7 linked regions of the Homo sapiens genome follow. The protein of the gene in region 1 purifies or fractionates together with the protein of each later gene. This does not show direct contact. Each region holds a gene or a part of one and is shown in the gene's direction. Other genes may lie near its edges. The genes, in order: TMEM169, LEMD2, TMEM68, RABEPK, GHDC, RTN4 and ABCB1.

Region 1 (3,500 bases):
AAGGCTTCCTCACCCAACTTCCTTATACTCTGCATGCTCCAACTAGAGGCTGATTTATACACAAAAATCGGTAACACAAGCAGACTATGCTAACTACTTATGTATATAAAATAAAGAAACAATAATTGTTGACTTTCATATGAATAAGGAAAATGCAAATTATGACAACAATGAGATATAGTATTCCTTCACATGGGTTTTGCCAAATATTATATGTTTGTATAAATGACAAAAATATTACTGTAGCAAAAGTTTATTCACTGTCTATTATAAGAGATTTAGATTGCATTCCCAAAATAAAGTATTGCAAGAAGTAAAGGGAGAGGAAGGCTTCTGCTAAGTTGAGGATCGTTTCCCACATTCCTGTCCATCTCACCCCATTTGCTTCCTGTTGATGGCTTTGCTTTCCTATCTTTCAGGTGGAATGCATCCTTGGGACATCTTTGCATAGCCCCATCTAGGAAGAAGTTCTGTGATGTGTGAACTGTGAGTTTACTCAAACAAGTCCAACTCTTTATAAGACATAGGTAGACGTCAGGTCTGGAATGGAAGAGCCAACAGCAGTAGAAGGCCAGGTCCAGCTTCCAAGCCCCCACCAGGGCTCTCTCAGGAAGGCTGTGGCTGCTGCCCTGGCGCTGGATGGGGAATCCACAATGGGGCACAGGAAAAAGAAGAGGAAAGAGTCACGCCCAGAATCCATCATCATCTACCGCTCAGACAATGAGAAAACAGATGAGGAGCCCGGAGAATCAGAAGGTGGAGATCAGCCTAAAGAGGAGGAGGGAGATGATTTCCTAGACTATCCTGTGGATGATGGTAAGTCTCTCTAGCCCACTTGTTTAAAGCCATGGGAAGGAAACCAAAAGGGCATCTTCCAGAACAGACAGGCATATGCTCACTGTCCTATTTCTTCTTGGTGATACATTTCTTCTTGCAATATTACCACCTTTTATTTATTTATTTTGAGACAGAGTCTTGTTCTGTCACCCAGGCTGGAGTGCAGTGGCATGATGTCGCCTCACTGCAACTTCCACCTTCTGGGTTCAAGTGACTTTCCTGCCTCAGCCTCCTGAGTAGCTGGGACTACAGGCATGTGCCACCATGCCGGGCTAGTTTTTGTATTTTTAGTAGAGACTGGGTTTCACCATGTTGTCCAGGTTGGTCTCGAACTCCTGGCCTCAAGTGATCCACCTGCCTCAGCCTCCCAAAGTGCTGGGATTATAGGCATGAGCCACTGACCTGGTGCAATATTACAGTCTTCATTCAACAAATGGTCAGTATTTACTGAGCACCTATTACATTTTTTTCTAGATGATACAGAAATCTCCACCCTTTCAGAATTCCTAATGAAATGGAAGAGGCTGATTTATACGCAAAAACTGGTAACACAAGCAGACTATGCTAACTACTTAATGTATGTAAAATAAACAATAATTGTTGACTTTCATATGAATAAAGAAAATTATGAGAAAATTTGCCAGAAGAAAATCATATGGCAAATTATGACAACAATGAGATATAGTATTCCTTCACATGTAGGCTTGCCAAAAATTGGGTAAAATGTGATTACATCAATATGAGCAAATGGATATACTTCATGCACCTTAGTGAAAGTGGAAGCCGCTTCAACCACTTTGTGGAGGAAACTTGTCAACGTTTATTAAATATTTAGTAAAATTCACAGTTCAAAACATGCATACCTCATGACCCAGAAATTCTCAATATCTACTCCATGAAACTTATGCCCATGTTATCCTTGTATAAGGAGGCATATATAAGAACATTTGTTGAAGCTAATGCAACCATGATGTGTTTGTATTAAGAATTATTGTGGAGGCTGGGCACGGTGGCTCACACCTATAATCCCAGCACTTTGTGAGGCCAAGGCAGGCAGATCACGTGGGGTCAGGACTTTGAGACCAACAACAGGAGTTTGAGACTGGCCAACATGGTGAAACCCCGTCTCTACTAAAAATACAAAAATTAGCAGGGTGTGCTGGGGCATGCCTGAGGTCCCAGCTACTTCAAAGGCCGAGGCACAAGAATTGCTTTAACCTGGGAGGTGGAGAATCTGTGTTTCTAGAATGCAGAGGTTGCAGCAAGTCGAAATCCTGCCACTGCACTCCAGCCTGGGTGACAGAGCAAGACAACATCTCGAAAAAATAATAATAATTATTATTATTGTGCAGCCGTAGAGAGATGAGGCAGATCTATTTGTGTAGATGGATAGATCTCTAAGACATATGCTCACAGTGAACAAGATAAGCAATTTCTCTGCTCTCCTGCAGTTGACCTTCAGGGAAAGACAGATAGTGAACAAGTCAACAAATAAAAGATACTTTCAGGTAGTAGTATGAGTTCTAAAGATGACAAAACCATGCTGATGGGAAGATGAGTACTGGTGGAGGGTGGAAGGTGGTGGGGGAGAGACTGCATGGTTGTGAAAGGCTTCTCTGAGGAGGTGACATTTGAATTGATCCAAATGACATGAGGGAGCCACCATGAAAAGTTCTAGGGCAGAGTTTTTGGAGGAGGTGGAACAGCAAGGGCAAAGCCTCTGAGGTGAGAGCAGCTTTGGCCCATTTATGGAAAGGAGTTATTTCAGTGTAGGGAGTGTAGGAGATAAGAGGGAGGATGGTGAGAGGAGGACAGGAAGGTAGGCAGAGGCTGGATCATGGTGGCCCTTGCAGGTCTCGGTAAAGAGTTTGATATTTGTTTCAAGTGCAAGAGGAAGTCAATGGAGGACTTTTAAGCAAAGAGACATCATCTTGTTTATATTTGTAAAAGATCACTCTGGCTTCTCTATAAAGAATGAATTATAAGGGTTAAGACTGGATGCTGATGGGAGACTATTGTGTCCCTGCAGCCTCAGTAGCACTAATGGAGAAGTTCGGGTGATAGCAGGAGAAAGCTGGAGAAGAGAAGCTGGATTCAGGATGCAATCTGAACTTGCTGATTGATCAGAGGCAGGGAGTGAGGGAAAGAGAGGAATCAATAATGACTCCTGGGTGATTGACTGGAATGACAGGGAGGATAGATGGTGGTGGTGTTTGCTGTGATGAAGACTGTGAAAAGACAGGGCTTGGGAGACTGCACATTCCTTTTCTCTGGGTAAACAGAGTCCCTGCCACTATCCAGGGCCCTGCTCTTTAGGTGGCTTCATCTTATCTCTCAGTTGTGGGGCAAGGAGTCCACAGGGCCCAAGGTCCATGCCTGCCTAAAGGCTGTATTTTCCCATCCCCACCCAGACTTCTAGGGTGGCCAGCAGATAGCTATTTGGTTCTGTGTGGGTGCGTTGTGTGTGTGTGTGTGTGTGTATGTGTGGTGTGCGGTGTGGGTGTGGTGTATGTGGGGGTGTGTGCGCTGTTTGTGTGTGTCGTATGGTGTGTGTGTGTAATGTGTGGTGTGTGTGTGGATAGGCGTGGGTGGTATGGTATGGGGGAGTATATGGTGTACGTATGTGTGCGTGGTATGTATGTGGTATGTGTAGTGTGGTATGT
Region 2 (3,500 bases), on another chromosome or scaffold:
AGGCACAATGCCTTTTAGCTGGAGCAGTCAGGAGAGCGTCACAGGAGGTAGCATCTGTGCCAGGCCCTGAAGCCCAGGTAAGACTGGTTACATGTATGTGGGGAAGGACAAGGCAAAGCGGCAGGAAATTACATCTCGAGTGGGAAGCAGCACCTTCATGGAGGAAGGGGAAGATGAGAGAATGAAGTTTGGAAGTGTTGGTTGGGCCCTACCATAGATGGCCTTGGATGCCAGGCCACCAGAGCTTGATCTGGCAGGCAGTGAGGGCCAGAGAGGCTTTGAGCAAGGGAGTATCATGCTGAGAGCCAGGTGCCAGGAAGGTGAATGCGGCAGCAGCTTGAGTAGCACAGTTAAGCAGAATCATTTTCAAGTGTTATTGACAAAACAACTGGATTGGGAAAGGGAGAGGAGGAACCGAATCGAGAGGCCATCTACGTGGTCCAGGCAGGCCTGGCAAGGGCAGGAAGAGTCCTAGTGGGAAAAGGAGGATGCTAGAAGCCACCTGTGTCTCAGGGGACCCCTGGGGTCAAGATCAACTTTGAAGTAGGAGGATCTGGCTGTGTTAGGGGAAGGCGACAGGCTTCAGTTCAGTTTCAAAGTTTTAAAATATGACCTTCAGCTGCTCCCTTCCCCAGCATGCAGAAACACACTCACTGGCCACCCGAAGTCCCCCAGGCTGTGCTGGGTCAGGGCAGTCAGGCCACGCACACGTGTTAAATAGTGTATGCGTGCGTGGCCCTGCACCCTCCCTGCTCTCGGGGAGTCAGGCAAACCACAGCACAGGAGCGAGGACCAAGGGCTATGGCAGGTCACCAAATCTGGGGCCATTTCATCAAACAAAAGGCCCCCAGGGGCTGAGGGCTTCCCAGGGGAGATGGCCCCTGGGCTGGACCGGGGAGGTTGGGCAGGACTAAGTGGGAGGCTGCCAGCTCCATCCTATGGGAGCAGGCCTCCAAAGCCACTCGGGGGAGCTGCCCCTTGGCGTGCTGTGCTGAGGCCCCACTGCCCAGCACACAGACATCCTCTTCCTCCAAGGGGCCCCTCAAGACAATAGACCTGGCATTCCAGGTCGCCTGCCTGTGTCATGAGTCAGAATCCCCGTGGTGCCCATGGCCTCCCTGCCTTTCTTTTTTCTCAGGCTGTGTTTATTTATAGTGCCATTCCGGTACCTTCCGAAGCTATCTGTCTGATTCTTTTAGGGATCAATTGCAAAGAGACCTTGCTATTGGGCAGCTTTTTAGTCATTTAATGCAAAATGCCACACTGCTTTGCAGGTCAGGTTTTAATGATCTGGAATCGATCCAAGCTAAGTGGCTTTTGATCTTGCTGCAGAGTGAAGATGCCCCACAGAAGCCAGGAGCCGCTGGGCAACATGCTCCTTATTAGAGCTGATGGCTTGATTCTTGCTGCATTTTTTAGTCTGTTTCAGAGTGATTTTTCCTTTGTGTTTGAGCATGTGTGGTTTTTTTTCTCCTAGGTAATTTTGAGTGTGGAAATCCAGAGAATCTAAAAAGCAAATGCATTCCTGTTATGGAAGCCCAAGAATATATAGCCGTAAGTAGGCTTCAGTGCTTATACATTCCTGGGAGGGCCTGGTGCTTTCCTATTGGTCTTTCAAGCCCTGTTGGGGTTTTTGTTTTTTGTTTGCTTTGTGGCTTTTGTACTAGGCTACCTTAAGTTAAGGTTTGGTTTATGGCTTTTTGTGCTAGACTACCTTCAGTTAAGGCAGCCATGGTAGTGACTGCCCCAGAGCCAGGCCGCCATGTGCAGTGGGGCGGCTCACTCCTGACTGCTGCACTGTAGGTGTGCCTGTTACCTGCTTCTCCCTTGGTTCACTTTGCTCGTCTTGCCTTCGGCTTTCAGGAGAAACATGCTGTCCCTTCTCCCCCGTATGATTACCATTCAGACTGCCCAGGGGCCGTCTGATTTCCTGTGTGGCCTCAGGATGGTAGATTATAGAACTATGGAGCTGGTATTCCAGGTCGCCTGCCTGTCCAGTAACTTAGGGGTCATCTGGTTCCATTTGCATTTCACAGATGAAGAAACTGAGGCCTGGAGAGGGTCAGGGACTTGCCTGAGGCCAGACCACTTGCACCGGCCACTGGGCTCACCCACCCCCAGCCACAACGCTGTTATTCGCTTTACCCTAAGATGAGCTGCCAGCTCTCTGGCCTGATGCTTCCATCCTCGAGAGAATCATATTCTTTTGGCCGCCTCAGACCCGCACTGTTTTCCTGCTTGTGCTTCCGCATCACCTCCTCTGGTTATAGCCTCTTCCTTGGCTTTCATCAACCCCCGATTTCCTTCCTGCCACTTTGCTGTGCTTTTAGCAGAACAGGGTTTTGGGGCTGTGGAGGACACGGGAGAGGGCTTCCTTAATCCAGCAGCAGAATAATGTTCCAGCTGCTCCGCCCAGACGCCGAACTAACCTTCTCCCGCGCCCTCCCACAGAATGTGACCAGCAGCTCCTCCGCCAAGTTTGAAGCCGCACTGACCTGGATACTGAGCAGTAACAAGGACGTGGGCATCTGGTGAGTGTGGGCAGGGTGGCGACGCAGCATGGGTGCCTGCAACCACTGTCCTCGCTCGTCAGCTAACACCCGTGCTCCAACAGAGCTGTCTCAGGTCTGAAGCTGGAGGCTGGGTCTCCCAGCAGAATCATGTGGGTTAGGATGGAAGTGGGGCAACAAAAGCAAGAAGCATTTGGAATGCAGTGTAAGGAGCAGCTTCAAGATGAGACACAAAATCCAGGTGTTAGGATGTTAGCCTGGTGTTCCAGCTAAATCCTGTCTCAGGTAACTCAGTCTGTGCCTTTCTCATTCATCAACAACACCACATGGTTTGTTGGGGAAGGCATTTTTCTGCACTTCCCCTCCTCGGGAGCTAGTTTTTATTTGTAGATGAAATTATTCTTTCTGTATGTTGGTTTTACTTACTATGGAAATCGCATAAGGAAATACTGGATTTTATTCTGACCAGGCAGTTTCTGCCTCATTTTTATCACTGGTGAGCACTGTTAGAAAAGGTAGCAAACCCTTTCATGAGGCTGAAAGGCTGTATCTGGCGGCTCAGCCCAGGGGGAGGGGCGTGTCAGCCAACAGCCAGGCAGCCTTGAGAGACCTGTCCCCTGCTGGCAGAGCAGCATCACTTCCCCACTTCCCACTCTCGGTGTTTGTGGGGGTCTCTGTTCAGGTTATAGCTCTTGATATTAAAACGTCTCTAGAGTTTTGTTCTTTTCCTCTCTAATCCACCCAAATTACTAATTCCATCAGCACTGCATCCAGCAGAAGCCCCTCGGGCAGCTCCACCTCAAGCTGGATAACTGGATGCATGGCACGATTAAAATTTGTTGGCTTAAAAAAAAAAAAAAGCTGCCCTGAGTAGCTGAGCAATTTTCCTGTGTTAGAAAAGGCGGAGGAGAATACGGATTTTATCCTCAGCAGCAGCGCTCACTGAAGCTGCTAACACAGAAGAATGATGACACTCACCTTTTCATGTTG
Region 3 (3,500 bases), on another chromosome or scaffold:
GAAACTGACCATTTCCTACTGCCTTCCCTCTGCCACATGTATGTAAGCCACTTTCATCACTTATTGCAAATATTCCTATTTGCTGCCTGTGTAGTATATTCTCAACACAGCAGCCACTTAAAACCCAAGCCAGGCAACCTCACCCTTCTGCTCAGTGCCCTCTGATGCCTTCTCCATCTCACTTAGATAAAAGCGTGCATAGAGGCCGGGCACGGTGGCTCATGCCTGTAATCCCAGCACTTTGGGAGGCCGAGGCGGGCGGATCACAAGTTCAGGAGATCGAGACCATCCTGGCTAACATGGTGAAACCCTGTCTCTACTGAAAATACAAAAAATTAGCCGGGCGTGGTGGCGGGCACCTTTAGTCCCAACTACTCGGGAGGCTGAGGCAGGAGAATGGTGTGAACCCGGGAGGCGGAGATTGCAGTGAGTGGAGATCACGCCACTGCACTCCAGCCTGGGCAACAGAGCCAGACTCCATCTCAAAAAAAAAAAAAAAAAAAAAGCGTGCATAGAAAGCTCTACAGTGTTGCCTCTCTGGTCCATTTCCAAGTGCCCTCCCTGTCACTTTCTCAGCCTGGCATCCTTGCTGCTCCTCAGGCCACACCAAGTGCACATATTTTGCACTTGCTGTTCATTTAGCTAGGAAGTTTGCTTCCTTCCTTCCTCCCTCAGGTTTCTGCTGAAAAATATCTTTTAGAGAAGTCTTCCCAGAATGCCTTATATAACATAGCAACCTCCTCCTTTCCCCTACTCCCGTGCCTGACATAGAACTCCATATTCTTCTTACACTGCTGTTTATCTTTCTCCCTAGCACCTGTCATCATCTGACCTAGCATGTATTTACTAGTTCTTTGTTTACTGTCTATCTTCCCCCTCTAGGATGTAAGTCACTTGAGGTTGTAGACTTTGCTTTATTTGCTGCTGAGGAAATGGGTGGTACATATTAGGGTACATAGGTGCTAAATAGGTCTTTATAGAATGATTTATCATCTTCATTTTCAGAGAAACAATGAGACACAGAGAGGTGTAACTTGCTTAAGATTGTAAAGCCAGTATTCCAGTATGTTCAGTCTGGCTCCTAAGCCCATTCATGTCATCCACTGTGTTCCCGAAACAGACTGAAAGGATAGGCTATGTCTTAGCCCACCTCATGAAAGTTAATAAGCAGATGAGATGTATAATCTTTGCTGGGCTCAAAAAGGTTTTTTTCAAGTGTAGTTTGTAGAGATGTAGAAAATAGTAGCATATTTTTAGCTGAATGAGTCAGTATGATCGAGTTACCAAAAAAGCTGCTGTGATTCTATGAATGATAGCGATAGCAAACATGTAACACTGATTACATGTAAGGTATTCTAGGCTCTTTACACAGATTAGCCCATGTAATCACAGTAATCTCATGAGGTAGTTAGGATTATTATCCTAGTTTTATAGGTTTTAGCAAACGGAGGCACAGGGGTTACCGTACATGGTGTTGTCAGTATCAGATAACTGGAGTCAGCAACTCGGAGTGGTCTTGAGTGCTGAAAGCTTAAGAAACCAGGGGCTGAGAAGTAGTTGAAAGAATTAAGGATTCTGACTGGAGAAGGAATTTTGTGGCTCATGGCAGCTGTTTTTAAACTTACAAGGTTGTTTAATGGAAGAGGGTCTGTGGTACAAAACTAGGTCCAGTAGGGAAAAGTTACGGGGAAGTTAAGTATAAGGAAGACCTTTTTAGTAGTTCTGATGGATGGTTGCTATGTTGCATTCTAAATGATCAAACATGGGTAAATTATAGTGATTTGACTTTTTTTATTTTTATTTTTTGAGACGGAGTTTCACTCTTGTTGTCCAGGCTGGAGTGCAATGGTGCAATCTCGGCTCGCTGCAACCTCCGCCTCCCAGGTTCAAGCGTTTCTCCTGCCTCAGCCTCCCGAGTAGCTGGGACTACAGGCGTGCACCACCACTCCCAGCTAATTTTATATTTTTAGTAGAGATGGAGTTTCACCATGTTGGTCAGGCTGGTCTCAAACCCCCGACCTCAGGTGATCCACCTGCCTTGGCCTCCCAAAGTGCTGGGATTACAAGAGTGAGCCACTGCGCCCAGCTGGTGATTTGACTTTTTATATGGATTGATTAGATGATGATGTAAATAAAGCCCAAGTTGTGGGCTCAATGTTTGCTATGTTCATCTCCTGTAACCATAACAGACCAGATTTCTCACAAGTAAATGCTATTGGTTACAAGGAAGTTAGATGAAATGTTTCATTCCTGGGAGAACAAGTCAGTGCCTGCCCTCCTAATAAGCCAGTTAGCAAGATAATCTTAGAATAAAAACAATACATTTTTCTTATATGTACATCTCCTCCTCTCCTTTCATCCTTTGCTTTCATTTATTCATTTTTTGCCTCAGCTACAAAGGACTTGAGATAATTTTCAGTAAGATTATATAGTATGGAATAATGATAAAATAGTTCTAAGAATACAATCAAAGTATGGAGAAAGGAAATCTTTTGTAGGAAAATATTATCATAGGGCTAATATAATTGTATAATTGAATGTTATGTTTCACCTTCAGGTTATCTGGCAAAGTTACTAAAAAGAATCATAGTCAGTTATATATCTTCATACTTTTTCTCCTAAGAAACAAAGCTTTTGAAAACTTTGTTTAAAATAAATTCTTAGGTGGGGCTCTATATAGTGGCACTAAACAGTGTAGAGTTGTCTTCACCAAAGCAATGGTAGCATGAGTGTACTTTTTAATTGTAATATACCAGTGTGGGCCTATAATCATATTTCTTAAACATTTATGAATGTCTCTTGCTGTTTATTTTATAGAAATGCTAACTCTAGGTATTAATGATTATCTTTTTTTTTCTTAGTAATTTATTTCTTACATTTGTTTACTGTGCTTTCCAGAATAGAGACATTGAAGTTTGGGACAAGATATTTATCTAACTTCTGGTAAGTCCAATGACTGTTTTAGAGAGTGAATTTGTAAAATAATTATACAGCTATATTTTCAGTCATTTAAGATTTAAGATAAAAACAGTACTGATAAATTTTTATTGCATAATGAACTTTTGTAAATCTGTTTCTCTATAAAAAAACAATATCCATTAATGTATGTAATCATTTCGTAAAGAATTGGGTTACTTTTACTGAATTAGGTAGATATTGATGTTTTCTTTTGTGCAGAGTTATCTCAATATGGCTGGGCATGGTGGCTGATGCCTGTAATCTCAGCACTTTGGGAGGCTGAGGTGGGTGGACCACTTGAGGTCAGGAGTTTGGGACCAGCCTGGCCAACATAGTGAAACCCTGTCTCTACTAAAAATACAAAAATTAGCCAGGCATGGTGGCACATGCCTGTAGTCCCAGCTGCTCGGGATGCTGAGGCAGGAGGATTACCTGAACCTGGGAGGCAGAGGTTTCAGTGACTGAGATCGTGCCACTGTACTCCAGCCCGAGCAAAAGGGTGAGACTCCATCTCAAAGAAGAAAAAAAAATTATCTCAATGT
Region 4 (3,500 bases), on another chromosome or scaffold:
ACCCTGTCTCTACTAAAAATACAAAAAAATTAGCTGGGCATGATGGCTTGTGCCCGTAGTCCCAGCTGAGGCAGGAGAATTGCTTGCATCTGGGAGGCAGAGGTTGCAGTGAGCCAAGATTATGCCACTGCACTCCAGTCTGGCAACAGAGCAAGACTCCGTCTCAAAAAAAAAAAAAAAAGAAAATAAAAGAAACGATTATTCTTTGCTCTACACAAGGGCAGAAGTTGAACAATGGTGACCCACTTACGTATTTTGTTAGGTCCATGTAACATTTCCCTATTGTTTTAATCTTAAGTTTTGTTTTTTTTTTTGAAATGGAGTCTCAAACTGTCACCCAGGCTGGAGTGCAGAGGCACGATCTTGGCTCACTGCAACCTCTGCCTCCTGGGTTAAAGTGATTCTCCTGGGCCGGGCATGGTGGCTCACCATGCTGTAATCCCAGCACTTTGGGAGGCCGAGGTGGGCGGATCACGAGGTCAGGAGATTGAGACCATCCTGGCTAACACGGTGAAAACCCATCTCTACTAAAAATAAAAAAAAAAATTAGCCAGGCGTGGTGGCGGGCGCCTGTAGTCCCAGCTACTCGGGAGGCTGAGGCAGGAGAATGGCATGAACCCGGGAGGCAGAGCTTGCAGTGAGCCGAGATCGCGCCACTGCACTCCAGCCTGGGTGATAGGGCGAGACGCCATCTCAAAAAAAAAAGAAAGTGATTCTCCTGCCTCATACTCCCAAGTAGCTGGAACTACAGGCACGTGCCACCATGCCCCGCTAATTTTTGTATTTTTAGTAGAGATGGGTTTTCACCATGTTGGCCAGGAGGGTCTTGAACTCCTAACCTCAAGTGATCCACCCACCTCGGCCTCCCCAAGTGCTGGGATTACATGCGTGAGCCACCACGCCCAGCATAATCTTAAATTGTTTACCAACCAATTATGCAGAAATCTACATATAAAAATTTAAATGGTTTGGCTTCTCTTGATAATGTTGGAAAATCTAATGTCAGTAGGCCTCCCTGTCTACATGGCAACAATTATTTGGAACTGAGCTGCCACCTATCAAGAGGGCTCTTATTCTCCAGTTTGCCACAGTTTTTGTTACTCCCACCTAGGCATTTGAATTTCTACTCCCTGCACTAAAAAAATCAAAGGTAGGCTGGACGAGGTGTAATCCCCCAGCACCTTGGGAGGCCAAGGCGGGTGGGTCACTTGAGGTCAGGAGTTTGAGGCCAGCCCGGCCAATATGGTGAAACCCCCATCTCTACTAAAAATACAAAAATTAGCCAGGCATAGTAGCTCACACTTTTAATCCCAGCTACTTGGGAGGCTGAGGCAGGAGAATTGCTTGAACCTGGGAGGCAGAGGTTGCAGTGAGCCGAGATCGCGCCAGTGCGCTCCAGCCTGGGCAACAGAGCAAGACTCCATCTCAAAAAAAAAAAAAATTCAAAGGTAAATTAAATCACTTCTAGCCCTCAATTACATTAAATTAGTTCAACTTACATCTTTATTGCAACCTATTAATAGCTTTGTGACCCTGGCTACACCATCTCAACCATCTGGACCTCAGTGCTCTATAAAGTAGGGATAATAACTTGCTTCAGATCTAACAAGATAATGCCTGTAAAGGTCTTGTGTAATTGGTTAACCAAGTAAAATAATTGTTAATAATAAAGGTTAGGGTTTTTTGTTTGTTTGTTTGTTTTTTGAGACGGAGTCTTACTGTGTCACCCAGGCTGGAGCGCAATCTCAGCTCACTGCAAGCTCCACCTCCCGGGTTAATGCCATTCTCCTGCCTCAGCCTCCCAAGCAGCTGGGACTACAGGCGCCTGCCATCGCGCCCAGCTAATTTTTTGTATTTTTAGTAGAGACAGGGTTTCACCATGTTAGCCAGGATGGTCTTGATCTCCTGACCTCATGATCCGCCCACCTCGGCCTCCCAAAGTGCTGGGATTACAGGCATGAGCCACAGCGCCTGACCAAGGTTAGGTATTACTATTCTGTGAACTTGTCTTAGCCAGCCATCATTTATTTGCAAGTAACAGAATCTCACTTAAACCAGAGGAAAAAGGGGGAATTTATTTAGTCAGATACAGGCGTGTTTCTTTCTTTCTTTCTTTTTTTTTTTTTTGAGACAGAGTGTTGCTGTGTTCCCAGACTGGAGTACAGTGGCACAATCTTGGCTTGCTGCAACCTCCGCTTGGTTTACCAAGTAAAATAACCCTGGGTTCAAGCGAGTCCCCTACCTCAGCCTCCCGAGTAGCTGGGACTACAGGCACGTGCCACTATGCTTGGCTAATTTTTTGTATTTTAGTAGAGATGAGGTTTCACCATGTTGGCCAGGATGGATTCGATCTCCTGACCTCGTGATCCGCCCACCTGGGCCTCCCAAAGTGCTCGGATTACAGGCGTGAGCCACTGCACCTGGCCAATACAGGCGTGTTTCAAAGAATTCAAGGACAGGAAGTAGAGCCCAGGATCATGAGAAAGTGGAAGCACTTGATCTGGTTGGCTCATTCTGGTTTCATTGGCTACCTTCAACCCAATCAGCTAAAGCTACAAAGTCAAAGCATAGTACAAACATGTCATCTGGGATCTATCCTTGTGGTTGACAAAGTGGGGACAGTTTCCATAGAACGGGGTCTATGGACTAGGCAGACAGCCCCCTAAGTATCTATTATAGAATTTTCTGGAGGTTGACAACATGCCCTTTAAGTGATTCAGTGGTTTTCATTTATGTTTATGGCCCTCTTCTCATGACCCTCCTCAAGTGTGCCAACCAATATAATAATTGGCAGCCCCAATCTAGGAACTGGGTGAAATGTTTTCCAGGAAAACACCAGTGGGACTTAGATACCTGCAAGGGCCTCTTGCCCCGGTATGAACATGCTAGCTTCATTCCCTCCTGCACACCTGACCGTATCTGGGTATTTGGAGGTGCCAACCAATCAGGAAATCGAAATTGTCTACAAGTCCTGAATCCTGGTAAGTAGCCAAAGGTTATTTTATTTACGTACATACAAATAAACTTTCATGCACACACACACACATATATATAAATCCAATTATAATTCCAGTACATTTGGATTATACTAATTACCATTTAACTTTGCTGACATAGAAAATAGGAATTTTAACTTGTAGCATAATCTGAAAACAACAGAATAAAAACAATTGTTGGTAACACATACAATTTTTAACTTGTTAAATGTCAAAGCTGGAAGGGACTTCAGAGAACAGCTATATCAAGTGGGCTACTCAGGTTTATCAAGGGCAAAGTGACTTTCCTAAAGTCACAAGAGGCCGGGCATGGTGGCCCATGCCTGTAATCCCAGTACTTTGGGAGGCTGAAGAAGGCAGATCACTTGAGGTCAGGAGTTTGAGATTGGCCTGGCCAGCATGGTAAAACCCCCATCTCTATTAAAAATAGAAAAATTAGCTGGGTGTAGTGGTGGGCGCCTATAATCCCAGCTACTCAAGAGGCTGAGGCAGGAGAATCGCTTG
Region 5 (2,908 bases), on another chromosome or scaffold:
AGAGCGAGACTCTGTCTCAAAAAAAAAAAGAGTCTTGCACAAATTCATGTGGCACCAGGATTCACTCCCAAGTCTGCCCCCTCCAGGACCACAGCACTCTGCCTCTTTCCAGTGAGGGCCTAAGAGGCAGCCCGCTGAGGCTGGGGGAGCCAGGAAGGATGTGGTGGAAGGGCAGCAGGAGGATCAGGTGCTCAGAGGATCAGGCCTGGGATCCAGGAGGGGCTATTGCCTGGCAGAAAGCGATGGCACCAGCAGACGCTGAGGAGGCTGCTTTGCTTTCACAGGGGTGCTGGGCCTAAACCTACAGCCAGAGCAGCCCCATGGGCTCTACCTTCTGCCCCCTGGGGCCCCCTTTATCGAGCTGCTCCCAGTCAAGGAAGGCACCCAGGAGGAAGCTGCCTCCACCCTCCTTTTGGCCGAGGCCCAGCAGGGCAAGGAGTATGAGCTGGTGCTGACGGACCGCGCCAGCCTCACCAGGTGATCAGCTGCACAGCCCCTGCTACCTGGGGCCCTATGGGACCGTGCTGGGGGCCTGGGGCATGAGCTCAGAAGACCTTGGGCCCGACCTCACTCCCACTTGCACCCCATCAGGTGCCGCCTGGGTGATGTGGTGCGAGTGGTTGGTGCCTACAATCAGTGTCCAGTCGTCAGGTTCATCTGCAGGTAGGTGACCCCGGGGAGCTGAAGGGCCATCCTTGTGTCCTGGGCTCCACTGCCTCTCCCTTCCTCCTCTTCAGGCTGGACCAGACCCTGAGTGTGCGAGGGGAAGATATTGGTGAAGACCTGTTCTCTGAGGCCCTGGGCCGGGCAGTGGGGCAGTGGGCGGGGGCCAAGCTGCTGGACCATGGCTGTGTGGAGAGCAGCATTCTGGGTGAGCCTCCCCACCGGCTCCTGCCTACCATCCTTGAGCTACCCTTCAACTCCTACCTCCCCTGCCAGGGGACTGCTAGGAAAGAGATAAGCCTCCTTTACTACTCCTACAAAAGTCCTTCTCTGCATCTAACTCTCATCCATCCTGCTGCAGTCTCTACCCATTTTCTTTCCTGATCTGTCTCCTATTTAGGATCAAGCTCTAGGTTCCTCTCCATTTACCCCACTCCCCACCAAGAAACTCTTTTTTCCCTATGAATCTCAGAGTGGGGAAGAACAGATAGGGCAGAGGACACTAGACTTGGCAGCTGCCCATTCACCGGAAGTATGTGTGCACATGGGGTCTATTCACAGATTCCTCTGCGGGCTCTGCTCCCCACTACGAGGTGTTTGTGGCGCTGAGGGGGCTGAGGAATCTGTCAGAGGAAAATCGAGACAAGGTAAAGGAGACGAGGACAGGGTCTGACTGTAGACCCCTTCACTCTGCACACTCCCAGGGTGCCATGGAGATCAGGGCTGATGGGAAGGAGAGGGGTGGCGGAGGAGAAGCTCCCTGGGGCTCTGGGAGGGGAGGGCTAAGTCCCACAGACACACACCTGTCCACACAAAACTTCTAAACACATGTAGCCTGGGCACAGCCACACACGCCTCGTGTGCACACTCACAGTCACACACCAGCTCACTCAGGCTGTTCTGTTCCCAGCTGGACCACTGCCTTCAGGAAGCCTCTCCCCGCTACAAGTCCCTGCGGTTCTGGGGCAGCGTGGGCCCTGCCAGAGTCCACCTGGTGGGGCAGGGAGCCTTCCGAGCACTCCGGGCAGCCCTCGCTGCCTGCCCCTCCTCCCCCTTCCCCCCTGCGATGCCCCGGGTCCTTCGGCACAGGCACCTGGCCCAGTGTCTGCAGGAGAGGGTGGTGTCCTGAGTCAAGTCCTGCCCCACCGCCCAGCTCCCCCCAGAGGCCACCTCGCCCCTCCCTCTGGGACCTCTCCGGATGGGGAGTCCTTGGCCAGGGTCTCTGACTCTGTGTCACCTGACATTTGCCCATGAGAGCCGCTGGGCCTTAGAGAGGCCTTGGCCCAGCTGACCGGTTCTGAAGTATGGGCCTCCGGGGTTAGCAGATGCCAGCAGTGCCTGCCCGTGTCCCCATGTCCCGGCATGAAGGACACTGCTAGAGAGTTACCATGCACACCGATGGTTTCCTGTATCACAGCCCAAAGAGGTTCTCTGGTGGCCACAGCTGTGTGCTCAGTCAGTGCACTGGGCAAGCTAGAAGTGTTGGGGGGTTAATGTCCCCAGGAGCAGCAACCCTGAGTCAATAAGGAGCAGGACCTCAGCTTCATTGTCCTTGAGCAGGACAATTCTGAAGTGTATTCTACATAAACTCTCAGAGGATGCCCAGCAGGATGGAGTCCCAGTTGCCCGCAGCAGTAACCCACTCATTCATGTACTTCCTGCGGGGGCTCTCCCTTCCCTCTCTTCCCCACTCCCCCGCCTTGGGCTTCCTGGGATGGCTCCCAAATAAACCTCTTGCACCCAGATTCTTGCCTCAGGGTCTGCTTTGGGGAAACGGGAGTGGACCCCGGCCCAGCCATTCCCCCACTGAGCTCCAGGACTTTCCCCCAACATTCTGCTCTGGGCCTGGCAAGGCTGCATGCGCACACAGGAGCCTTGGAGGACTCGTGGCACATCCTAGGCCAGCACCCACAAACCACTTCTGCGGTGGGGAAGGGAGAGCTATTACTTCACATCATAAGGCATCGCCGCAGGAAGCAACTCCGGAGACCATCTGGGTTCACTGTTCCATACTAATGAGGAAACGCAGCCTCCACAAGGTTGTAGAGGCTAAAATAAAAGAAAGAAAGAAACTGGGCTAGATTTTGGCTTCCTTCCCTCCCACTGCCTGGACTGGAGTTTTAAGGTTTTCCATCTTGGAGGCTGATGGGAGGGGCAGACCTCAGCTCCTCCTCAGTAGAGGCAGCACTGGATCCAGATGCCTCTGAATAGCTTCTCCATTCCATGTCCCACACCCAGGTCCTGG
Region 6 (3,500 bases), about 160 Mb from region 1:
TAGAAGATGAGGAGTAACTCAATCTTTTCCTTTTTCTTTATGAAAAAGACATACTTGAGGGAAACTGAGGTAAGAGAAAAATATGAAATATATTTTTAAACAGGAATTTTTTTTTTTTTTTTTTGAGATAGTCTCCCCCTTGTCACCAGGCTGGAGTGCAATGACGCAATCTTGGCTCACTGCAACCTCCGCCTCCCAGGTTCAAGTGATTCTCCTGCCTCAGCCTCCCGAGTAGCTGGGATTACAGGCGCCTGCCACCACGCCTGGCTAATTTTTGTATTTTTAGTAGAGACGGGATTTTACCATGTTGGCCAGGCTGGTGGTCTTGAACTCCTGACCTCCAGTGATCCACCCACCTTGGCCTCCCAAAGTGTTGGGATTACAGGCATGAGCCACTGCGCCTGGCCACAGGAAGTTTAATGATTGACAAAAGCATACTAATCTTGTATTGGTATGGGAACAAAGAAAATAGTTCTGTCTTTGAACATTAGGGATTCAGGGGGTGACAGCACTCTCTTGGAATCTTGTGTGTTGGAATGCTGAGGTTGGAAGGCAATGGGGAAAGAATATTGCCTGTTCTACAGAGTTCCCTAATTCCATATTGATGATACCTATTGGGAAACTTTAGTTTTTTTAGTAAGTGTAAGAACATTGTGATTATGGTTGTGGATAGTTAACCATTTTCAATGTGTCTGGATTTCTTAATGCATTCAAGAGTTTGTTCATTAATTCAACCCATTATTGATTACCTACCAAGAGACAGGATCTATTCTAAGCTTTGAGGGTATAGCAATAAGCAAGACACATGCTCCCCCTTGGGAGAGTACAGATAATAAGCACATAAATAAAGAACCCAGAATAGTGGTGTTATGAGGAAAATAAACAGGATAATGGCATAGAGAATGATGGGGATTTATGGGGGCTTTTTTAGGTTAGGTGACACTAAGACAGGCTTAGAAGGTGAGATTTGAGCTGCAGAGAGAAAACATTTCCAAGCAACTTCAGGGCAAAACCCTGAGGCAGGAATGAGCTCTTTGTGTCTGAGAATCTAGTGTAAGACTAGTGAGAAAAACTAGTGGGAGAGTGAAGAGGTGGCCTTACCCACCCAGATCATTGGGGGTCTCTAACAGGCAATGGTAAAAATGTTTAGCTTTTTAAAAAAATAAAAATATGCTTATTAAATAATTATATTGTGATTTTGGAACTAAAATAAGTTTGGAAGATTCAGGGCTACTGAGAGGACTGATGTGAGACAAAGGTGAGAAATGTGCAGAGCAGGGTTAGAAGCATAGACTAGCCTGCCTGGAAGAGAGGGTTTCTAGATCACTGACACTTGTCTGTTTAACATTGCTGTTTACGTTATTTATGAGTAAGCCCTGATTTTCATCTGTTAATAAGTTGTAATTTTACTGTTTGCTGTTGTGCCCAGAGCATCTCCATCGCAATGCAGTAACTGAAGTGAGACTAAAACCTCTCACTTGAGGGCCATTTTTCATGGGAAAATACTTGGCTTAGTGGTTGGTTAAGTTAGGCTTTGAGGATATGCGCAGAAAACTCTGGCTAGAAATCGATTTGAGAGCAGTGCAAACATAATTAAGGGTGACTTCGAACTGGTCTCTGGACATGTTCTAAACCAAGGTTAATTAAGACCGAAAATATGTAGATCTGGATTCTGAAAGATACTGAATGCCAAATTAAGGAATTTGGATTTTATCATTCCACTTTAATCCATGCTCTGCTATCCAGTTGCCCTTGCTTTTGGTAATTTATATTATGAAACCAAAATTGTTTTTTTTAATTGTTGTTTCTAAAGTTATTGTTTTTCACCCCTTCTCGAATTAGAGCTTTTGGCTTTGGGAAGACAGCCATTGAAGGTTATTTGAACTGAGGCAAGGCACCGTGAAAGCAGTATTAGAAAATTGGTGACAATATTCAAGATAGGTGGGAAGGAAAAGCAGATGAATTATTTAGAAAGCTATTACAGTAGTTCTGAGAAAGATGAGTAGGGCCTGAACTATTTCATTATTTGTTCATTCAGTGAAAATGGAATAGAAGGGAGGAATATAAGAGTATAAGAAGCACGCTTTCTTTAATTGGCTGTGAATCTGTTTTTATAGTTAGTTTACGAAGAGGCTGTATGAAAGACGAATTGATAGGACTTGGAAACCATGAATGTAAAGACAAAGAAAAGAATATTAGTGCTTATTAAATCAGTTTCAGAGACTGCCAAAATTTAATTGCCATGAAAATTTGTATAAAATTGAATATTGCTCATAAATACAGATTATGGGTTGGGGCTTAAAAATTACTAGTTTTTACTATCATGAAGCCATTTATTATATGATCATTTTTATTGGCGTAGTAGCATGTATTAGAAATTTTAAGATTTTGAGTGACATATGGTTTAAATATTAGGTATCAGTTCTTAATATAAAGTCCAAGTTCCCAGGAAGTGGATGCTTCTAAACACAAGAAAGTCATGCCCTGTCCATTCCCCACTTTCATTTTTGTGATTCTGAATAATTTCTGGTTAAGCCATTTCTTATTTTTAAAAGTTGGGAATAAGTAGTATACTCCTCATGGATATGGTGAATTATGTTTCAGATTGGTTCCTGGGCAACTGAGTGTCAAATTTGTGGTCTTTTTTTTTTTTTTTTTTTTTTTTTAGTGATTTGCAAACTCTCTCAAATCCTTTTTAAAATGAAGTGATGGGTATATGTGGAACCACTGATAAATAACTGCATGGAATAGTGTTTAGAAAACATGCTATTTTAGTGCTATATTATTGTAAACTTAAAGGATTTGCCATGTTATAAAAACATTTCTGAAAAGGAGCATGTTACCTATTGTCCATTAATTGGCTTTGTTTTATGTGTAGTTATTTTCTTTTTAAAAATCTAAAAACCAAAAAACAATGGTCTCACTTTTGTCCAGGCTGGTCTCAAACTTGGGGCCTGAAGCAATCCTCCTGCCTGGACCTCCCAAAGTGCTGGGATTACAGGCATGAGCCACCATGCCTGGCAAGTTTTTTTGTTTGTTTGTTTGTTTGTTTGTTTCTTTTGAGACAGAGTCTTACTCTGTCGCTCAGGCTGGAGTGCAGTGGCATGATTATGGCTCACTATACCCTTGACCTCCTGGGCTTAAGCAGTCCTCCCACTTCAGCCCCCCAGGTAGCTGAGACTACAGGTGCACACCACCATGCTGGCTATTTTTAAAATTTTTTAAAAAAACTTTTATATTTATGTATTTATATTTTGGAGACAGGGTCTTGCTCTTTCACCCAGGCTAAAGTATAGTGGTGCAGTCTTGGCTCACTGCAGCCTCATCTTCTGGGCTCAAGTGATCCTGCCACCTCAGCCTCCCAACTAGCTGGGACCACAGGCACGTACCACCACGCCCGGCTAATTTTTGTGTTTTTCGTGCAGATAGGGTTTCGCCATGTTGCCCAGGCTGGGCTCAAATTCCTGAGGTCAAGCAGTCTTCTCGAAGTGCTGGGTTTA
Region 7 (3,500 bases), on another chromosome or scaffold:
TTCTGAGAGAGAGAGAGAGAAAGAGAGAGAGAACACATGCATGCATGCTCACAAAGCATATAAGGCCCCCTGAGTCATAGGCTTGGAACTGGCAAAAGTGATTTCCACCATATCCTGTTGGCCAAAGCAAGTCACAAGGCCAGCCCAGATTCAAAGGGTGCTGCAAAGGTCACAGTGCAAGAAGATGAGGATACAGAGAGAGGTATACAGAGGGAAAAAAATGGGCCATTTTGCAATCAATCTATCACATAGACATGAACTTATAAGGAAATGTGTTTGTTTTATTTTTAACATCTGTTTTATAACTATTAGAGGCAAAGCTCTCTGGTTATAGAAGTGTCAACTTTTGGCCAGGCATGGTGGCTCACACCTATAATCCCGGCACTTTTGGAGGCTGAAGCAGGAGGTTCACTTCAGCCCGGTAGTTCGAGACCAGCCTGGGCAATATAGGGAGACCCCCATCTCTACAAAAAATAAAACAATTAGCTGGTGTGGTCATGCACAGTTGTAGTCCCAGCTACTACAGAGGCTGAGGTGGGAAGATCGCTTAAGCCCTGGAGATCATATCTTTAGTGAGCTCTGATTGCACTACTGCACTCCAGCCTGGGCAACACAGGAAGACCCCACCTCAAAAAAAAAAAAAAAAAAAAAAAGGAGTGTCAGCTTTCTAGCATTGTGATGGTAATGCTGTGCACATGTTTTGTGTTTGTGCTTTCCAGAGTATTTTCAGCTGTTGTCTTTGGTGCCATGGCCGTGGGGCAAGTCAGTTCATTTGCTCCTGACTATGCCAAAGCCAAAATATCAGCAGCCCACATCATCATGATCATTGAAAAAACCCCTTTGATTGACAGCTACAGCACGGAAGGCCTAATGCCGGTGAGTTTGATGTTTCAACTGTTTGATCTACTCCTGACTCCTGAATGAAAGTATTTTAAGTGGAAACTTAATAAAATTTGTACTTTCAAATATGCTGATGATAAAATAAAACTTCCTAGATCATAGATTCCTTTCAATTACTGCTAATAATATACATCAACATTCAGTACTTTTACGTAGCAAAGGTTATAGGGAAATAGGAATACTGCTCACTTTATAAGCAAAACCTATTAATCAGATTTTTTAAAAACAATTTTTTTTTAGAGACAGAGTCTTACTCTGTCATCCAGGCTGGAGTGCAGCAGTATGATCATAGCTCACTGCAGCCTTGATCTTCTGGGCTCAAGCGATCCTCCTGCCTCAGCCTCCCAAGTAACTGGGACTACAAGCGTGTGCCATCATGCCCAGCTAATTTTTTAATTATTTGTAGAGACAGGGTCTCGTTATGTTGCCCAGGCTGGTTATCAGATTTTATTGTATGTAAGTTACTGTATTCCTGAGGAACAGATTTGAGTTATTGTAGCTGTATTGCATATTCATATTGTCTTAACAATACATGCTATGAAAGCTTTTACTCTTTTAGATCTCATTTATTAAATTCTAGCAGTCTGAGGTCAAGCACAGTGGCTCATGCCTGTAATCCCAGCACTTTGGGAGGCCAAGGTGGGTGGATCACGTGAGGTCAGGAGTTCGAGACCAGCTTGGCCAATATGGTGAAACTCCATCTCAAATAAAAATAAAAAAAAAAAGATTAGCTGGGTGTGGTGGCACACGCCTGTAATCCCAGCTACTTGGGAGGCTGAGGTACGAGAATTGCTTGAACCTGGGGGGTGGAGGTTGCAGTGAGCTGAGATCATGCCACTGCACTCCAGCCTGGGTGACAGAGTGAGACTCTGTCTCAAAAAAATAAAAAATAAATAAATAATAAAATTAAAATAAAATAAATTCTAGCAGTTTGAAGTGAAGCCAATTGTAACACAAATTAATTATCTTCTGACACCTGGTAATCGAGAGAGTTAGCTATACACTTTATTTTCAGTATTGCAGCATTCAAATTTACTGTTATTCTTCTCATTGCAGAACACATTGGAAGGAAATGTCACATTTGGTGAAGTTGTATTCAACTATCCCACCCGACCGGACATCCCAGTGCTTCAGGGACTGAGCCTGGAGGTGAAGAAGGGCCAGACGCTGGCTCTGGTGGGCAGCAGTGGCTGTGGGAAGAGCACAGTGGTCCAGCTCCTGGAGCGGTTCTACGACCCCTTGGCAGGGAAAGTGGTGAGCACACTTTCACATTTAGCTCAGTTCAGGTTTTCATCATCCAAATGTCTGAATGTATTTAATTCTCAACTATAAGCCATGTTTTTTCAAACCTTTAAACAACAGTCCCACTTGGATAAAGTCTGAGAGCCTAAATATGGTCTCCAAGTGGTGTCATCTGTCCCAGCCAACTTCTCCAGGCTCCCCTCAACACTACCCCTCTACCCTCCTTTGCAAGCACCCTTTGTACCACCTGTCTCCCTTGCTGTACTTAGGTTTCAGCTGACTTGAAAAGAACCAACAAAAATGGAAGTAGCCAGAAAGATACAGGACAGGTGCTAGGAGTGAGATGAAAGCCAAGGATGGAGACTGTTTCAAAGATGGTGGTCAGCAATGACAGATGGTATAGAGAGATTGGGTAAGGAGGAGACTGAGAAGACATGATAGAATCTAGCAATGAATGGGCTATTTCTGACATTTTAAAATATTCTTAGTGAAGTAGTGATGGTAGGAAACAGTTAAGGGTGGCTGAAGTATGATTAGGGGAAGAAATGGAGATGTAAGTGAGCATAGATTATCAAGAAGATGGAAAGTAAAAGAAAGGCAAATAAGGACAGCACTTGAGTGGGGAGGCAGAGTCCAGGGAAAATGTTTAGGGGTTGAACTCTTGAGCATTTTTATGACTGGGGATGAGACAAAATCATTGATGGAGAGAGGGCATTGAAACATCATCTGAGGAAAAAAAAGTAGAATCAACAAATTTGGGAAATGTAAAAAGAACATGGAAGTATGCCCTTTTGTCTTAGTTGCTGGGGATGAGGGAAGTGTCTGGCAGGGAGTAGTGAGTTTAAACGACTATGATGGGGGATAGGAAAGAAGACAAACTAGGAAGGAATAGAATTAAGAGCAAGACATTTTCATTATGTAGGCATGTAATTAGTTGTACTGAGAAGTGATATTTAAAATTCTTAACAATGGGAACAGCATGGACACTGACCAATCAGAATGGATGCCTGCTAGTACAAGTCAGATGGATGCCCACCCGCTGTGTATGGACGCTGGTAGCATTTAATGACTCAAATGAAAAGAGAGTTTTCAATCTTTAGTCTAGGACTCTTTTTACTTCCTCACAGCGGTCACTCTTACTCATAAATGTTTGTTATTGTATTCAAAGACAGTTATGCCTTTATTCAGTTTACTCTTAAATCATTACAAGCTTGTTCCCTACTTTTACTCTCTTGCTTTATATTTTCTGTGAACTCTGATTGTGTCCTTCAATTTTGTGGTGAACTTAAAAACAGGACTCTAAATAAAGACGTCGCTGACAGCCAAAGCAATTAGAGGAGGAAATGTTAGCTCTCAGA

What was found.
Region 2: the proteins of TMEM169 (region 1) and LEMD2 purify together in Homo sapiens (co-immunoprecipitation; 2 studies listed by BioGRID and IntAct, with this or other methods). This does not show direct contact.
Region 3: the proteins of TMEM169 (region 1) and TMEM68 purify together in Homo sapiens (co-immunoprecipitation; 2 studies listed by BioGRID and IntAct, with this or other methods). This does not show direct contact.
Region 4: the proteins of TMEM169 (region 1) and RABEPK purify together in Homo sapiens (co-immunoprecipitation; 2 studies listed by BioGRID and IntAct, with this or other methods). This does not show direct contact.
Region 5: the proteins of TMEM169 (region 1) and GHDC purify together in Homo sapiens (co-immunoprecipitation; 2 studies listed by BioGRID and IntAct, with this or other methods). This does not show direct contact.
Region 6: the proteins of TMEM169 (region 1) and RTN4 purify together in Homo sapiens (co-immunoprecipitation; 2 studies listed by BioGRID and IntAct, with this or other methods). This does not show direct contact.
Region 7: the proteins of TMEM169 (region 1) and ABCB1 purify together in Homo sapiens (co-immunoprecipitation; 2 studies listed by BioGRID and IntAct, with this or other methods). This does not show direct contact.

What each region holds. Positions count from the first base shown.
Region 1 is NC_000002.12:216,095,419-216,098,918, forward strand, and holds part of TMEM169 (transmembrane protein 169), read left to right. Parts: intron 1-419; 5' UTR 420-545; coding exon 546-816; intron 817-3,500.
Region 2 is NC_000006.12:33,779,131-33,782,630, reverse strand, and holds part of LEMD2 (LEM domain-containing protein 2), read left to right. Parts: intron 1-1,477; coding exon 1,478-1,554; intron 1,555-2,451; coding exon 2,452-2,531; intron 2,532-3,500. UniProt on the Homo sapiens protein: Nuclear lamina-associated inner nuclear membrane protein that is involved in nuclear structure organization, maintenance of nuclear envelope (NE) integrity and NE reformation after mitosis.
Region 3 is NC_000008.11:55,763,379-55,766,878, reverse strand, and holds part of TMEM68 (DGAT1/2-independent enzyme synthesizing storage lipids), read left to right. Parts: intron 1-2,898; 5' UTR 2,899-2,943; intron 2,944-3,500. UniProt on the Homo sapiens protein: Catalytic subunit of the alternative triglyceride biosynthesis pathway, which mediates formation of triacylglycerol from diacylglycerol and membrane phospholipids.
Region 4 is NC_000009.12:125,210,542-125,214,041, forward strand, and holds part of RABEPK (rab9 effector protein with kelch motifs), read left to right. Parts: intron 1-2,828; coding exon 2,829-2,981; intron 2,982-3,500. UniProt on the Homo sapiens protein: Rab9 effector required for endosome to trans-Golgi network (TGN) transport.
Region 5 is NC_000017.11:42,188,587-42,191,494, reverse strand, and holds the end of GHDC (GH3 domain-containing protein isoform 1 precursor), read left to right. Parts: intron 1-284; coding exon 285-477; intron 478-591; coding exon 592-663; intron 664-737; coding exon 738-871; intron 872-1,135; coding exon of another isoform or gene 1,136-1,224; coding exon 1,225-1,310; intron 1,311-1,573; coding exon 1,574-1,792; 3' UTR 1,793-2,408; downstream 2,409-2,908.
Region 6 is NC_000002.12:55,043,952-55,047,451, reverse strand, and holds part of RTN4 (reticulon-4), read left to right. Parts: intron 1-125; exon of another isoform or gene 126-636; intron 637-3,500. UniProt on the Homo sapiens protein: Required to induce the formation and stabilization of endoplasmic reticulum (ER) tubules. They regulate membrane morphogenesis in the ER by promoting tubular ER production.
Region 7 is NC_000007.14:87,513,885-87,517,384, reverse strand, and holds part of ABCB1 (ATP-dependent translocase ABCB1), read left to right. Parts: intron 1-719; coding exon 720-876; intron 877-1,956; coding exon 1,957-2,154; intron 2,155-3,500. UniProt on the Homo sapiens protein: Translocates drugs and phospholipids across the membrane. Catalyzes the flop of phospholipids from the cytoplasmic to the exoplasmic leaflet of the apical membrane.